4 linked regions of the Homo sapiens genome follow. The protein of the gene in region 1 purifies or fractionates together with the protein of each later gene. This does not show direct contact. Each region holds a gene or a part of one and is shown in the gene's direction. Other genes may lie near its edges.

Region 1 (4,051 bases):
CCAAGTTCACGCCATTCTCCTCCCTCAGCCTCCAGAGTAGTTGGAGGCGCCTGCCACCACACCCAGCTAATTTTTTGTATTTTTAGTAGAGATGGGGTTTCACCATAGCCAGGATGGTCTCGATCTTCTGACCTCGTGATCCACCCACCTCGGCCTCCCAAAGTGCTGGGATTACCGGCGTTAGCCACCATGCCCGGCGAAAGATTTTGTATTTTATTTCAAGAGGAGAAGGAAGCTATTGAAGTGTTGTAGGCAGGGAAATGACATCCAAAGTAATGACAACAGTCATAGTTTAAATATGCTGCTATCACGTTTTCAGTAAATATGATTGGTTTTTTGTCTTAACTGGGTTTCTGCTGCATCATTTCTCAATCATTTTTACTCCCTTCAGAATTTCTTGGCTCTTTGTGCCAGTAATTACTACAATGGCTGTATATTTCATAGGAATATCAAGGGTTTCATGGTTCAAACAGGAGATCCAACAGGTAAGTTATTCCATTAACCAAGATCTAAGGAACTGAATGTATAGTATGAAGAAGTGGGTAAAAGAAGAGGAATTAAATACGTGGAGTTTTTGTTTTGTTTTGTTTTGTTTAATAAGTTCTGTTCTACAAGTACAGAACATGCAGGTTTGTTACATAGGTATATGTGTGCCATGGTGGTTTGCTGCACCTATCAGCCTGTCCTCTAGGTTTTAAGCCCAGCATGCATTAGCTATTCGTCCTAATGCTCTCCCTCCCCTTGCCCCCACCCACAACTAGCCCTGCTGTGTGTTGTTCCCCTCCTTGTGTCCATGTGATCTCATTGTTCAACTCCCACTTATGAGTGAGAATATGCGGTGTTTGGTTTTCTGTTCCTGTGTTAGTTTGCTGAGAATGATGGCTTCCAGCCATCCATGTCCCTGCAAAGGACATGATCTCATCCTTTTTATGGCTGCATAGTATTACATGGTGCAATTTTAAAGCAGAAATTATTAGCACCTACCCCTAAAATGTGAACAATATTGTGCTCACTTTGGCAGCACATATACTAAAATTTGAACAATACAGAGAAGATTAGTGTGGCCCCTGCACAAGGATGAGACACAAATTTGTGAAGCTTTTCATACTTAAATATATATGAACAATATTTATAAGGAGGGTTATTCTTTTTTGTTTTTTGTAGGTCTGTTTTAATCTTCAGGTCTGTGAAGTTAAATTTGGGGAATTAGGAAAGGCCATATCAAATTTTATCTATATTTAAGCAGTCAAACTATAAAGTATTCCTTAAGTTTTGGGAAATGAACTTGTTTTCAATTTAATTAAATACTTCTTTTGATTTGCTTCACTTGTAATGTAGGAACTGGAAGAGGAGGCAACAGTATTTGGGGCAAGAAGTTTGAGGATGAATACAGTGAATATCTTAAGGTAAATCCTCAATGCTTTAAAAATCTATTTCTCATGCCTTGGTTATGCATGGAAACTTTGATACATGTGTCATAGTGATACAAGTTAACATCATTGCAAAATGAACATACTTTTTTATAGTTTTTGTACATTTGACAAATGATGTCGGGGAGACTTGAGAAATGGTGATCCTAGCCTGACATGTGTACTGGAATCCCACCACCACGTGGCTCTTGATAGTAAGTGAGTTCATCTTTGAATCTAACCTGAAATGTTTAACTAGTAGTGTACCAAAGAGACTTAATATCTCACCATAAAATTCATGTTGAATGACATGAAACAGTGGCCTTTTTTGAGAGTGGGGAGGAAAGACTATCAAACTTCCTGGTTGCAATGTTGCCCATTATCAGTACCCAGCTTTTATCATCTTCTGTTAGATGTTTGAACATCCCTGTATTAATATGACTTAATACCTATGGTAGATCACAACTAGGTTAAAGAGTAGTACATATAAATAGTCTTTAACATGGTAAAATTAGGGATTTTTAATTTTCTTTGTTATATTTTTCTGTGTTTTTCAAACCTCTGTGGAGTCATTTTTTTTTTTTGTCTAAAATTAAAAATTAGTGCATGCCTAGTTTTAAAAATCAATCCCACTTCCCAGAGATAACTTCAGTTGATGACTTATTATGTGGTCTTTCAAACTTTGTATCTCCATAGAATGATAACTTTATGATTAGAAAAAGAGCAATGAAGTATCCTCAACCAGGGCCGGGTACAGTAATCCCAGCACTTTGAGAAGCCCAGTAAGGAGGATTGCTTGAGGCCAAGAGTTTGAAACCAGCCTGGGCAACATAGTGAGACCCCCATCTCCACAAAAAAATACAAATATTAGCCTGTTATAGTGGCGTGTGCCTGTAGTCCCAGCTACTCAAGAGGCTGAAGTGGGAGGATTGCTTGAGCCCAGGAGATCAAGGCTGCAGTGAGCCAAGATCATGCACAGAACGAGACCCCACTCAAAAAAAAAAAAAAGTCTACTCAATCAAAATATGCAGTTTAAGTGTATTATTATATTTCCATTACATTAAAATGTACCCACAAAAATTCTGAAAAAAATTCATTGCAGTGTTTATCTCTGGATGATGAGACTAGGAGTAATTTCTTTTCTTTTTGCTTTTTTTAAAACCTTTTTTTAGAGACAGGGTCTTGTTCTGTCCCCTGGGCTGGAGTGCAGTGATGCATTCTTGGCTCACTGCAGACTAAATTTTCTGGGCTCAGGTGATCCTCCCACCTCAGCCTCCAGAGTAGCTGGGACTACAGGTGCATGTCACCATGCCTGGCTAATGTTTGTATTTTTTGTACAGATGGTGTCTCACTATGTTGCCCAAGCTGGTTCATTTTACTTTTCTATTGTAAGGAAATGTATTAGTTTTGTTACAGGAGTTGAGGCTGGGAGGTGATAAACTTTTTGAAAAGTCAACTTTTTCCTGAATGAATAACTAAACAATTTTTTAGGTATTAATTATTACATTAATGACTGCTTCCATATACCAGCTGAAAACCAGAGACTGGCTATGACAGAATCACCTGTGGAACTTTGTTGTTTGTTTTTGAGACTGGGTCTCACTCTGTTGCCTAAGCTGAGTGCAGTGGCCTGATCACGGTTCACTGCAGCCTTGACCTGAGCTCAAGCAGTTTCTCCTGCCTCAGCCTCTCAAGTGGCTGGACCACAGGAGTGCACCACCGTGCCCAGCTAATTTCTGATTTTTTGTAGAGACGAGGTCTTGCTCTGTTGCCCAGTCTGGTCTGAAACTCCTGGACTAAGATGATCCTCCTGTCTTGGCCTCCCAAAGTGTTGGGATTATAGGAGTGAGCCACTGCACTTGGCTGGAAGTTTTAAAACTATAACAGATCATGGCCTTGCCCTCCTAAAAATAAAGTCAGTAGGGCTGGTTAGGACTTAGACTATATTTTAAGGTTCCTAGATGATTCTTTTGCAGGCAGAGTTAAGAACCATTATATAGGCCGGGCGCGGTGGCTCACACCTGTAATCCCAGCACTTTGGGAGGCCGAGGCGGGCGGATCACGAGGGCAGGAGATCAAGACCATGCTGGCTAACACAGTGAAACCCCGTCTCTGCCAAAAAATACAAAAAATTAGCCAGGTGTGGTGGTGGGTGCCTGTAGTCCCAGCTACTTGGGAGGCTGAGGCAGGAGAATGGCCTGAACCCGGGAGGCAGTGCTTGCAGTGAGCCGAGATCGTGCTGCTGCACTCCAGTCTGGGCGACAGAGCGAGACTCCGTCTAAAAAAAAAAAAGAACCATTATATTATACACCTTATACACCAAGATTGTGGATATGTATTGACTCTTCATATATTCTGGCCCAGGAATTCCATTCCCAAATGTTTACTCAAGAGAAACTTGTAAGTTTGCACCAAGAGACATGTACAGGAGTGTTCTGATGTACTGTTTGTAATAGCAAAAGTCTAGAAACAACCCAAATGTCCACTGATTGTAGATGAATCACTATGTAGATTGTGGATAAATTGTAGTATATTCAGTAGTGAAATATCACATAGTAGTAAAAAAATAGTAATAAACTATGGCTATATGTACATGTATAACCTTAGAAATGTAACAATGTTATTTGTAGAAAGCATTTCCC
Region 2 (3,775 bases), on another chromosome or scaffold:
TGCCAACTCTGATTCAGGTGATCTGGGTGAGGCCTGAGATTCTGCATTTCTGACAAGCTCCCAGCTGCTGCTGCTGCTGCTGGTCCTGCTGGTGCCAAGACCACAGTGTTTGTGGTGAGGGATGGGAGCACACGTGGCTTTCTCTATCTGTAGTTATTGTGCTGGATTGTTTGCTGGTTTGCCCCACTAAACCATGAGGAAAGGAACCACGTCCTAAGCCTCTGTAATCCCCAATACTAGCAGGGTACCCAGCACAAAGTGGGTACTCAGTAGATTCCTTTTGGCGGAGTAGAGGACAGTAAAAATTCCTGGTCAGGCGCAGTGGCTCATGCCTATAATCCCAGCACTTTGGGAGGCTAAGGTGGGAGGATCACTTGAGCCCAGGACTTCAAGAACAGCCTAGGCAACATAGTAAGACCTCATCTCTACTAAAAATTTAAAAATTAGCCAGGCATGGTAGCATGCACATGCAGTCTCAACTACTTGGGGGGCTGAGGCAAGAGGATTGCTTGAGCCCAGGAGTTTGAGGTTGCAGTGAGCTGTGATCACACCACCGCACTCCAGCCTGAGTGTTAAAACAAGACCTTGTCGCAAAAAAAAAAAAAAATTCCTTAAGAGGGGCCCAGGATTTATGGGGGTTGGAGAAGCCAGGACCTGCATGAATACAGCTAACCATAATCCTTTGTATGGAGTCTGGAAGAAACCTAATGGCTGGCTGGGAACGGGATTTTTTTTTTTTTTTAAACAGCATCTCACTGTCATCCTGGCTGGAGTGCAGTGGCATGATCTCAGCTTACTGCAACCTCTGCCTCCTGGTTCAAGTGATTCTCCTGCCTCAGCCTCCTGACTAGCTGAAATTACGGGGATGCACCCTCACATCTGGCTAATTTTTGTATTTTTAGTAGAGATGGGGTTTCACCATGTTGGCCAGACTGGTCTGGAACTCCTGGGCTCAAGTGATCCATCTGCCTCAGCCTCCCAAAGTACTGGGATTACAGGCGTGAGCCACTGTGCCCAGCCTCTTTTTTTTTTTTTTTTTTTTTTTTTCCAGTTTTTAAAAATTGTGATAAAATACACATAACATGAAATGTACCATCTTAACCATCTTTAAATGTACAGTTCAGTGGCATTAAATACATTCAGATGATTGAGCAACTATTACCAACATATCCACATCTCTTTTCATCTTGTAAAACAGAAACTCTGTACTCACTAAGTAATAACTCCTCATTCCCCCCTCCAGCTCCTGACAAGCACCATTCTACTTTCTGTCTCTATGATTTGACTACTTTAAGTACATCATTTGAGTGGAATCATACAGTATTTGTCTTTTTTTTTTTTTTGGACTGGCTTATTTCACTTAGCATAATGTCCTTAAGTTTCATCCATGTGGTAGCAGGTGTCAGGATTACCTTCAAGTGAAGATTCCTGAATCCAGTCTGTTATCTGTCCTGTGTTCCTCACACTCTGCTGTCCCAGAAGGAGATCTGACAAGCATGACCAGAGTAAAGAGGAGTGAGGGAGCACACAGGTCTGAGATGGAACAAGTTAACTTCATTTGAATACTCTGAAAATTGACTGCTGGAAAATGTCCCCCAACGTCATGTCATTAGAAACCCTGGGGTGCAAATATTTTCTCAAGAGCGATCCACAGACTCCATATGCTGTTCTATGGAAGCTGAGTGGAGCCTTGGCCATTTTGACTCTAACTCCAGTCTCCTATCTGCAGTGACCTTCACCTCCACTAATTTCACCTACATTTTAAGCTGGAGTAGTGAGTCTACCCTACTCCAGCTCCAAAAACTCAAATTCAAATCTCATTCTCAGCAAGAACCCCTTATTCATTCATTGTTCTCACTCAAGTTACTCCCATTTCATTTGCTTTTTATTTTTGTTTTTTAACCTCATTGAGCCTTCCATCCCTAAGTACTTCTATCCCTAAGTACTTCCATCTGAGAGGAGTGCTTACATCCCTACTCCTGTTAGACTCCATGGTCCACCCATTCATCCACTCTCTTGCTGGTGCTCTCAACTGCTTTATCCCATTGGGTATTCTGCCAAACCCATCTAACAAAAGCCCAGCCCTGGATCAGTCCAAGTGTTTACCCCTTGTGAGCCTACAGCCAGGCTTCCTAATGCTGCTAGAAGAAACCTCACGCCTCCACAAGCTAATGCTGCTAAAAGATGGCCTGTTCCCTAACTGGGTCCATAGGTCTGTCCAGTAATCCTCACAGGCTTCACCTCCTTTCTCTTCCCCAATCTGCAACCTTGGCTTTTTAAAACTTTCCCTTTCTTTCTAAAACTTTTATTTTTCCGTCTACTTCATTGAACAAGTAGATGCCATCATAAGAGAACTTCCTCAATTTTCTGTTACTGTATCTAAAAACTATCCTAAATCCACGCCAAGCTTTTTGTCTGCCCTTTGGTAACAATAGAAGAGGTATACTGCTTCCTTCTAAAGCTAATCCTTCCATTTTTACTCTGACTCCCTTCCCTGTCCTTAGGGCTGCCTGCCCTTAGCATTTAACCAAAACATTCAAATCTTTCCCATCTTTGAAGAAAACTCTACTTCATATCCCCCTCTAGCTGCATCTTTTTCTTTCTCACTGTCTCTGGGTCTTCTATTTTCTCCTTAACCCATTGCATTTCTGCCCTCACCAGTCCACTGAGACCCTCACCAATTCAAGGCTTCCTTTTCAGTCCTAGTCTTCCTTGACCTCACAGCAACATTTGGCCCCTCTCTATCCTCTCTTGGTTCCAACCATCCTGAACACCTTTCAGTTTTCTAAATGTGATGACTCTTTTGCTTTCAGGCTTTTGCAGATGCTTTTCTTTCTGCCTGGACTACTCTTCGTCCAGTCCCCACCTTCTTTGCCCAGCTAACTCAGGTCCCACCCCTACATCACTGCTTCTAGGAAACATTCTTTGATGTTAACTACCTACTGCCTGTAAAAGATGGGTTGGGTGCCCCTTCTTTATATTTGCATGATTTAACCATGTCATGGGGTCAGCAAACTTTTCTTGTAAAGGACCAGATAGTAAATACAGTTGACCCTGTAGATCTGCAGGTTCTGAGTCTTCAGGTTCAACCAACTCTAGATTGAAAGTACAATATTCAAGGGAAGTGGAACCAAGGCCATAGCCACAGATTTTGGTAGCTGCAAACAGGGGAGTTGGTCCTGGAACCAATCTCCCGAGAATACCGAGGGACAACTGTACTTTTGACTGTAGGTCAGTAGGCAAAATCAAGATTATTGTAAAAGTATGTGTACAACAAGAAGGAAGCAAACTTCACAAAATTTTATTGTTGCAATCTAAAACATAATACCATATAATTTTTTTGTAATACAGGTCTACTAATGAGAAGAACAGAATTGGTTTTGGGGGAGTAACATTTCATTTCATCGGAGTTCAAGTTAGCATTCCTAGTCATCAGAATCAGTTGTGGATGTTCATCTGTTAATGCTGATCTGTAATGAGATTTTTATGTATTATACTGAGTTCATTTTTTTATATGCATATCACAATTCTGTGTGATATGAAAGGGAAATAAGTGAAATATAAGGAACGCGTAACTCCTGTTCTCATGGAATTTATAATCTATTTGGAAAATTATCATTGCAATAGGAGAGCCTCCTTAATGACGACAAGCATCACTGCTTTAGGAGAGATATGGAATAGTTCATTACATGTTCCCAAAATAATTTTTTGAGATTATTCATAGTTCAGAAGGATATCTATAAAAAAGTGAAGCCAGACATGTCCTTACTTTTAT
Region 3 (3,775 bases), on another chromosome or scaffold:
CTCCGTCTCAAAAAAAAAAAAAAAAGTGATCTATTTTTATTTAGGGAAATTTGAAAATACAGAAAAATAATCAGCTACTCAATTCTGGCTGCTATTAAGTTTCAAAATTTCTTGTTGAAAAGTACAGGCCCAGGAGCAATGGCTCACTCCTGTAATCCCAGCACTTTGGGAGGCCGAGGCAGGCAAATCAACTGAGATCAGGAGTTTGAGACCAGCCTAGCCAACATGGCGAAACCCCGTCTCTACTAAAAATACAAAAATTACCCTGGCGTGGTGGTCGCGCCACCAATATCAGCTACACAGAAGGCTGAGGCAAGAGAATTGCTTAAGCCCATGAGGCGGAGGTTGCAGGGAGCCAAGATCGCGCCCCTGCACTGCAGCCTGGGCAACAAAGCGAGTCTCCATCTCAAAAAAAAAACAAAAAAAACGGAAAAGAAAAACGAAAAGAGGACTGGCCGGGCCTGGTGTCTCACGCCTGTAATCCCAGCACTTTGGGAGGCTAAGGCAGGCGGTTCACCTGAGCTCAGGAGTTGGAGACCAGCTTGGACAATGTGACGAAACCGTATCTCTACCAAAAATACAAAAAATTAGCCCAGTGTGGTGGTGTGCACTTGTGGTCCCAGCTACTTGGGAGGCTGAGGTGTAAGGATGGGTTGAGCCTGGGAGGCAGAGGTTGCAGTGAACCAAAGTTGTGCTACTGCACTCCAGGCTGCTTGACAGAGTGAGACCCCATCTCAAAAAAAAAAAAAATGGAAAAGTGCAGGGATGTACACCCATCAGAAGTGTATTGCTCCATGAATTTTCACAAGCTGAAGGTACCTGTGTAACGATCACCCAGCATCCTAGAAGCTGCCCCTGGCTTTTGTCTATGTCACTCCCTCCCCATCACAAGGAGTAAGTAGTCACACTTTCCCATATATATATATATATATATATTTGTCATTTTAAAAAATATATAGTCATGTGGCCGGGCGTGGTGGCTCACGCCTGTAATCCCAACACTTTGGGAGGCCGAGGCGGGCGGATCACAAGGTCAGGAGATCGAGACCATCCTGGCTAACACAGTGAAACTCCGTCTCTACTAAAAGTACAAAAAATTAGCCGGGCATGGTGGCGGGCACCTGTAGTCTCAGCTACTCGGGAGGCTGAGGCAGGAGAATGGCGTGAACCTGGGAGGCGGAGCTTGCAGTGAGCCGAGATTGCACCACTGCACTCCAGCCTGGGTGACAGAGCGAGACTCCATCTCAATTAAAAAAAAAAAAAAAAAAAAAAAAAAAAAAAAAAATATATATATATATATATATATATATATATATATATATATATAGTCATATATCAATTAACAATGGGGATATATTCTGAGAAACATGTTGTTAGGCACTTTCATCATTGTGCAAACATCATGGAGTGTACTTACACAAACCGAGATTGGTAAAGCCTGCTACACACCTGGGCTGTATGGTATAGCCTATTGCTCCTAGGCTACAGACCTCTACAGCATGATGCCGTACAGAATACTGTAGGCAACTAACACAATGGTAAGTATTTGCATATTGAAACATAGTAAATATAGAAAAGGTACGGTAAAAATACGGTGTTTTGGGACCACTGTCATATATGCAGTCCATTGCTGACTGAAATGTTACGTGGCACATGACTGTTTATACATTTTCCTATTTTTGTCATTTTAAGTATTAAAAGTAACTTCTTTTCTTCTAAAAGTAATATACATACCTGGATGTGGTGGCTCATACCTGAAATCCCAGCACTTTGGGAGGCCAAGACGGGCTTATCACCTGAGGTCAGGAGTTCGAGACCAGCCTGGCCAACATGGTGAAACCCCACCTCTACTAAAAATACAAAAATCAGCTGGGCATGGTGGTAGGTGCCTGTTATCCCAGCTAGTCGGGAGGCTGAGGCAGGAGAATTGCTTGAACCTGGGAGGCGGAGGTTGCAGTGAGCCGAGATGGCACTACTGCACTCCAGCCTAGGCGATGGAGTGAGACCCTGTCTCAAAAAAAAAAAAAAAAAAGCAAAGTGTTTACAGCTTTGCATAAAGTTTCCTGAAGCATATATGCATTTTAAAATATTTAAAAAAATATTTAAAAAGCTGAGACTACAGGCACCTGCTACCACGCCCGGCTAATTTTTTTGTATTTTTAGTAGACACGGGGTTTCAGTGTCTCGATCTCCTGACCTCGTGATCCGCCCGCCTTGGCCTCCCAAAGTGCTGGGATTACAGGCATGAGCCACCGCTCCTGGCCCTAAAATATTTTTTATACTGACGTATTTAAAAAGTATTGTATTTTTTTAATACAATACTTTCCAGGTATTGTACCATGTGCATTTATAATATTTTTCTACATCATCAAAATAACTGATTACTCCTAAGAGCATTTCTTAATATCATACAATATCTGGTCCTTTTTCCAATTTACCCACTTGTTTCTACAATACCTTTTCAGCAGATTCATCTACCTTTGTAACTAATCCACTATCAGCTATTCATATTCATTTAAAAGACTTTTGACATATTTCATTTCTACCCTAGGTATAAAAAAATGTACTGCCCTAAACTTTTGCCAACTTTGGGTATTATTAATGTTTTTGCTGATTTGTTATATTATTTCTTTATGAGTATTGTTATTTTTAGAGACAGGGTTTCGCTCTGTCACCCAGGCTGGCATGCAGTGGTGCTATCATAGCTCACTGCAGCCTTGAACTCCTGGACTCAAGGAATCCCCTGCCTCAGCCTCCTGATTAGTTGAGATCACAGGCATGTGCCACTACACCCACCTGATTTTTTTTTTTAGAAGGAGTTTCGTTCTGTTGCCCAGGCTGGAGTGCAATGGCGCAATCTTGGCTCACTGCAACCTCTACCTCCCGGGTTCAAGCGATCCTCCAGCCTTAGCCTCCTGAATAGCTGAGATTACAGGCATGCACCACCATGTCCAGCTAAGTTTGTGTTTTTAGTAGAGACGGGGTTTCACCGTGTTGGTCAGGCTGGTCTCAAACTCCTGACCTCTGGTCATCCACCCGCCTCAGCCTCCCAAAGCGCTGGGATTGCAGATGTGAGCCACCATGCCCAGCGCTAGCTAATTCTTTTACTTTTATAGAGACAAGGTCTCGCTATGTTGCTGAGGCTGGTTTTGGCTTCCCGCCTCGGCCTCCCAATATACTGGTTTTACAGGGTATCCAGCCTATGTTCTTTATTTTAAACTTAACATTGTAGCCCAAGCTTTTAATTTTGATGTTGGGAATTCTCCAAAACCATCATTTAAACATGGATAGGTAATGTTCCATCACAAGGGTTCAGAGTATGTTCTTCCTGGGGTCCCCGAGTTAGCTGTTACAGCTTTTCCCGTCTAATCAGTAAATAAGCCTCCAGTGGTGGAACTCGTGGTCAAGGTTCTGCCTTCTGAGTTCATGTGTTTCTCCCTCCTCTACATCAGAATCCACCTCATTGCCTGGAGATCACGCCACCATCTTCAGAAAAGCTGGTCTCAGTGATGCGGTTAAGTGACCTCTCTACAGAAGATGATGACTCAGGTCACTGTAAAATGAACCGTTATGATAAGAAGATTGATAGTCTAATGAATGCGGTTGGTTGTCTGAAGTCTGAGGTGAGGGAGGTAGGGGGCTGGGATAGCTACTACCCTGAGGATGTGCAGGAGCACCCAGGTGGATTTCCTGCCTGGTCCCTCAGCCTGCGTCTGCAGGCCTTCAGGCCTCCTCTGCAGGGTTGCCCCGGGCTTCAGTTGCCTGCCCCGGGAGG
Region 4 (3,775 bases), on another chromosome or scaffold:
ACTCTTATTTGCGTCTAACTGTATCATTATGTTGTTATAGATTTGGCAAGACAGAATATGCTAGCTTGCTTAAAATTTTTAAATTATAAAATTACTCTTTTATAATGTATAATTGAAATAGCTGTGCAGCCTTATACTGCCTAATTTATCGATATGTTCTGTTAATTCCATCTGATAAAATAAGCTAATAAAATATTTAAAATTAAATTTAAATTATGGCTGCAGCAATATTATAACTCTTGTAATATTTTGCAGTTCTTTTTAGTGACTTAATGGTTTCTTACCTTGTGACAATTTATTAAAGCTAGCCAGAATAGATTAAATATTGATGGGAAATGTACTAAAGGTCTCGGACAGCCCGTAACTCTAAATATAGCTCTTTATTTTTGTAATGTTATGTTGAGCTTGCCCCAAAATTAACCTTAGAAATAAGATCTTATTTCATTCTGTTGACTTCCCATGTATAATGTATGGAGGCGAATGAGAAGTAAAGGCAAGTTGAGAAACTCCTCCAGAACTCCTGTGTCATGGCCAGTCTACATGCCTAAAGTGTGTCTTCCTGTGAGGACAGTGCCATGGTACCTCCTAAAATGTACAGATGTGTATTTATGCTATCAAGATTGTGATTACTTTTCAATATCTAGACTGTATTAATAAAATAGTATTTCAGAAGTGTGCTAGTTTCTTTGTGAAAACGGAGAATGCAGATCGTTGTCCTAATGGCTGCCGTGATTACTACCAACAAACAGGCCTTGAAAACTGCCAGAATTGTGCTTTTACAGGACTTGTGGTGCTCTCGTGGCTCCTGTGGTGGGGTGAGCCTGGGACCTAGCTCAAGAAGACAGGTATCAGAGCCATTCAGGAGTGGAGAAGAAGAGAAATTCACACACCTCCTTAGACTAGGCAGATTAAGGGAGTTTTAGTAGGAACTGGACTGGGATGGAAAGTGGGAATGACCCTATTAGCAGTGCTGGAGTCAGAGACATGAGTGTGGGATAGAAGGCACCTGCTGAACTTGTGCCTGGAGGCCTGGGGCACACAGATGACCCTTCTTCCTCCCAATGGTGAGCAAGGGCCCTAGAGTCCTCTCCTGCTAGAACCTAGAGCACAAAAGCTGCACATAGCAACCCTAGGTAGGGAAATTGTAGCAGGGCTGGAAGGGGGCCTCATGCAAATGGAGGCTTACAGGGCATTTAAATGAGGCGTCTTTGTCCCCTTAAGCTCAGTGTCCTTAAGTACTTCATCCCATGATTTTGGGGCTCAACCTGTGAGGGCTCATCTTCCTCCAGTCAGCTTGTCCTCTCTGCCTCTCTTAATGGAAGTGACCCTTGAGTCCCTTTTTTCATACCTATCTACTTTTTTTCAACAGATGGGGCCTGGGCTCCATTATTAAGCCATGTGGTTGGGCTTTTGCCCACAACCCCTTATTTATTGCATTGGACAGCATACATGATTATATCATACATCATGACCATAAAGTCAGAGGGTCAAACTTTTGAACCAAATAATTGATTTGCTTTAAAGATGTCACGTTTGGTTGTTTTGAAGTGGCATATAATAGAAATTTAATTGGTTTATTTCAATAAAACAGATACAAAATAAGTTACTGTATTTTTGGTGATGAATTCAACACCCATTTATAAGCTCTTAGCACGTGCACTGCTCACTCATCAACAGCAAGTATTTATTGAGTGCCTACTGTGTACCAGTGACTATTGTAGGCAACATGAGGTAATATAAAGATGAAAAAGACTTTTTTTTTCCTTTGAGGAGCTTATAATTTAGTTGAAGAGATGCTGCAGTATGTTTATAGATAACTGATAAGATGATAGACAATAGATAGTAAATAGATATTTTAAAATATATAAATGAATTATTTGAATCTTCAAAGGAGAGAATGGTTAGTTTCAGGTTCAGAGATTAGGAAGACTTCAGTGAAACATCGGCCTTGAACTAGACCTGTAAGAATGAGTTGGAATTCAACTGGTAAAGAGGAGGCTATTGCAAGATGAGTTCGTAGGGTGAAACATGCTCACAGGTGAAATATGCTCAAGCACATATTCTGGGAAATCCAGGCTTGGACTGTAACAAATAGTAGGGAGTCCTTGCACATTTTTGAGCAAAGGGCTATGCTCAGAATTAGGCATTATGGACTCTGGGAGGCTTGGAGTGAAATAGAACTCAGAGACCACCTATTGAGCACCTTTATTTTGCACGTGAGAAAATGGAAACCCTGTAGCACAACAAATTAATGGCAGAACCGGGGTTGGCACCCAAGTGGTATCTCTGTCCAATTTTTTTCTGCAATCCAGATCAGAAAAATTAACTGTATAGAATGTGTAGATGAATGATCAATGTAGCAATAAAGCCCAAGTAACTGTAATAATAATAATATACAGTTATTCATGTGGGGCTCTTGAAGTCACAGGCACCTTATTTTTTGTTCTTGTGCCCCATAAAGATAGAAAATTCTTCATTTTGCATTTTCACATATATTAAAAGGCAGATTTAATGCACTTAAAATAAAGAAAACTGTAATCAGTAGATCAAATCCCACTCAAAGAAATGCAATCATAAATGTCTGAACACATTGTTTATAATTTCAGAAAACAAAAGTTTATTTTACTTAAAATATATATAAATGAGCTTGAATACACCCACTATTGACAATCAAGATCAAGATTGAGCTTGTTCGCTCATGTAATTAAGGGCTGGTAAGAGAAAATAAGGAATATGTAACCTGAGTTTAAGAGATTCTAGGGAATATCTGGATACTCTTCATAGTACACAGTGTTTTTAAGAATGGATTTGCACTGGCATTTCGGTGCATCTCCTCTCCCCCATCAATGTAAGTGATCTAATTCATCATCTTTTTAAACTGAAGTGACTTTTACTATTCTTTTTATGTTGAGAGTGATAATTCCATTCTCTAGCTATCTTTATTAGATGCAGATTTACCACCTGTTTTAAACTTGAATGTTTAAAATTGTTATGAGACCTGTACTAACATATAGAGACCAAGGAGTCAACATTCTTCCTCTATAGAGAGAAAACATTGAAAATTTAAATATTTTGTGACGTATTACATAAAAAGTAAGTTCTTTTCTAAAGTTTTTTGTTAATTTTGCTGCAGTTTTTCTGTCATGGACTATGCTTTAGTCATTGTAATTAAATTGAAGTTGTAGAGAGGAAAAAGGAGAGAAGAGGAAAAAAATAAAGAAAATGAAGCCCATCTCTCTCTTACAGGCAGTACGGTGGTTCACATACACAGCAAATGGGCAGCCCCACCTGTTCAGAGATTATACGTGAATTCATTCTTGTCATTGCAGTTCCATTCTCTGTACTTTCCCTTTGAAATTAATTTTTTCAGTCATTTTTTTTTGCAACTTCACAAAAGTCTTGATTTTAATTGCCTTCAGGTTTAATTAAGAAAGCATACTCTGAGGAATCCATTTCCCCAGTAGAAAATAGTACTTTTTAAAGGGAAGAACAAGATGCTTTGTCTGGGAGGATATTATTTGCTCTCTCTGAGTGTTTTTATTTAAGTTGCTGAGTAGTCTCTTCTAACACATGACTTTAAATATTTCTTAAATAAAACAAGGTTATTTAAATAAAATATGTGAAATGAAGGTTTTTTTCCTTACACAGAAATGTTGGCAGTTGACATGCAGCATCATGAACATTCTGGGTTAAGTTGTTGGTATGGTGTCATATACTTTTTCTTGTTACTTCTTAATTCAGTGAAGAGATAAATCACACTTCATAATTAATGGAG

The links. Proteins that work in one complex are often made in the same cells at the same time.
Region 2: the proteins of PPIL3 (region 1) and GPALPP1 purify together in Homo sapiens (affinity purification with mass spectrometry; one large-scale study listed by BioGRID and IntAct). This does not show direct contact.
Region 3: the proteins of PPIL3 (region 1) and ODF2 purify together in Homo sapiens (co-immunoprecipitation; one large-scale study listed by IntAct). This does not show direct contact.
Region 4: the proteins of PPIL3 (region 1) and PLCL2 purify together in Homo sapiens (affinity purification with mass spectrometry; one large-scale study listed by BioGRID and IntAct). This does not show direct contact.

What each region holds. Positions count from the first base shown.
Region 1 is NC_000002.12:200,878,776-200,882,826, reverse strand, and holds part of PPIL3 (peptidyl-prolyl cis-trans isomerase-like 3), read left to right. Parts: intron 1-391; coding exon 392-485; intron 486-1,338; coding exon 1,339-1,406; intron 1,407-4,051. UniProt on the Homo sapiens protein: PPIases accelerate the folding of proteins. It catalyzes the cis-trans isomerization of proline imidic peptide bonds in oligopeptides. May be involved in pre-mRNA splicing.
Region 2 is NC_000013.11:44,995,763-44,999,537, forward strand, and holds part of GPALPP1 (GPALPP motifs-containing protein 1), read left to right. Parts: intron 1-3,775.
Region 3 is NC_000009.12:128,465,731-128,469,505, forward strand, and holds part of ODF2 (outer dense fiber protein 2), read left to right. Parts: intron 1-3,194; exon of another isoform or gene 3,195-3,452; coding exon 3,453-3,623; intron 3,624-3,775. UniProt on the Homo sapiens protein: Seems to be a major component of sperm tail outer dense fibers (ODF).
Region 4 is NC_000003.12:17,017,180-17,020,954, forward strand, and holds part of PLCL2 (inactive phospholipase C-like protein 2), read left to right. Parts: intron 1-3,775. UniProt on the Homo sapiens protein: May play an role in the regulation of Ins(1,4,5)P3 around the endoplasmic reticulum.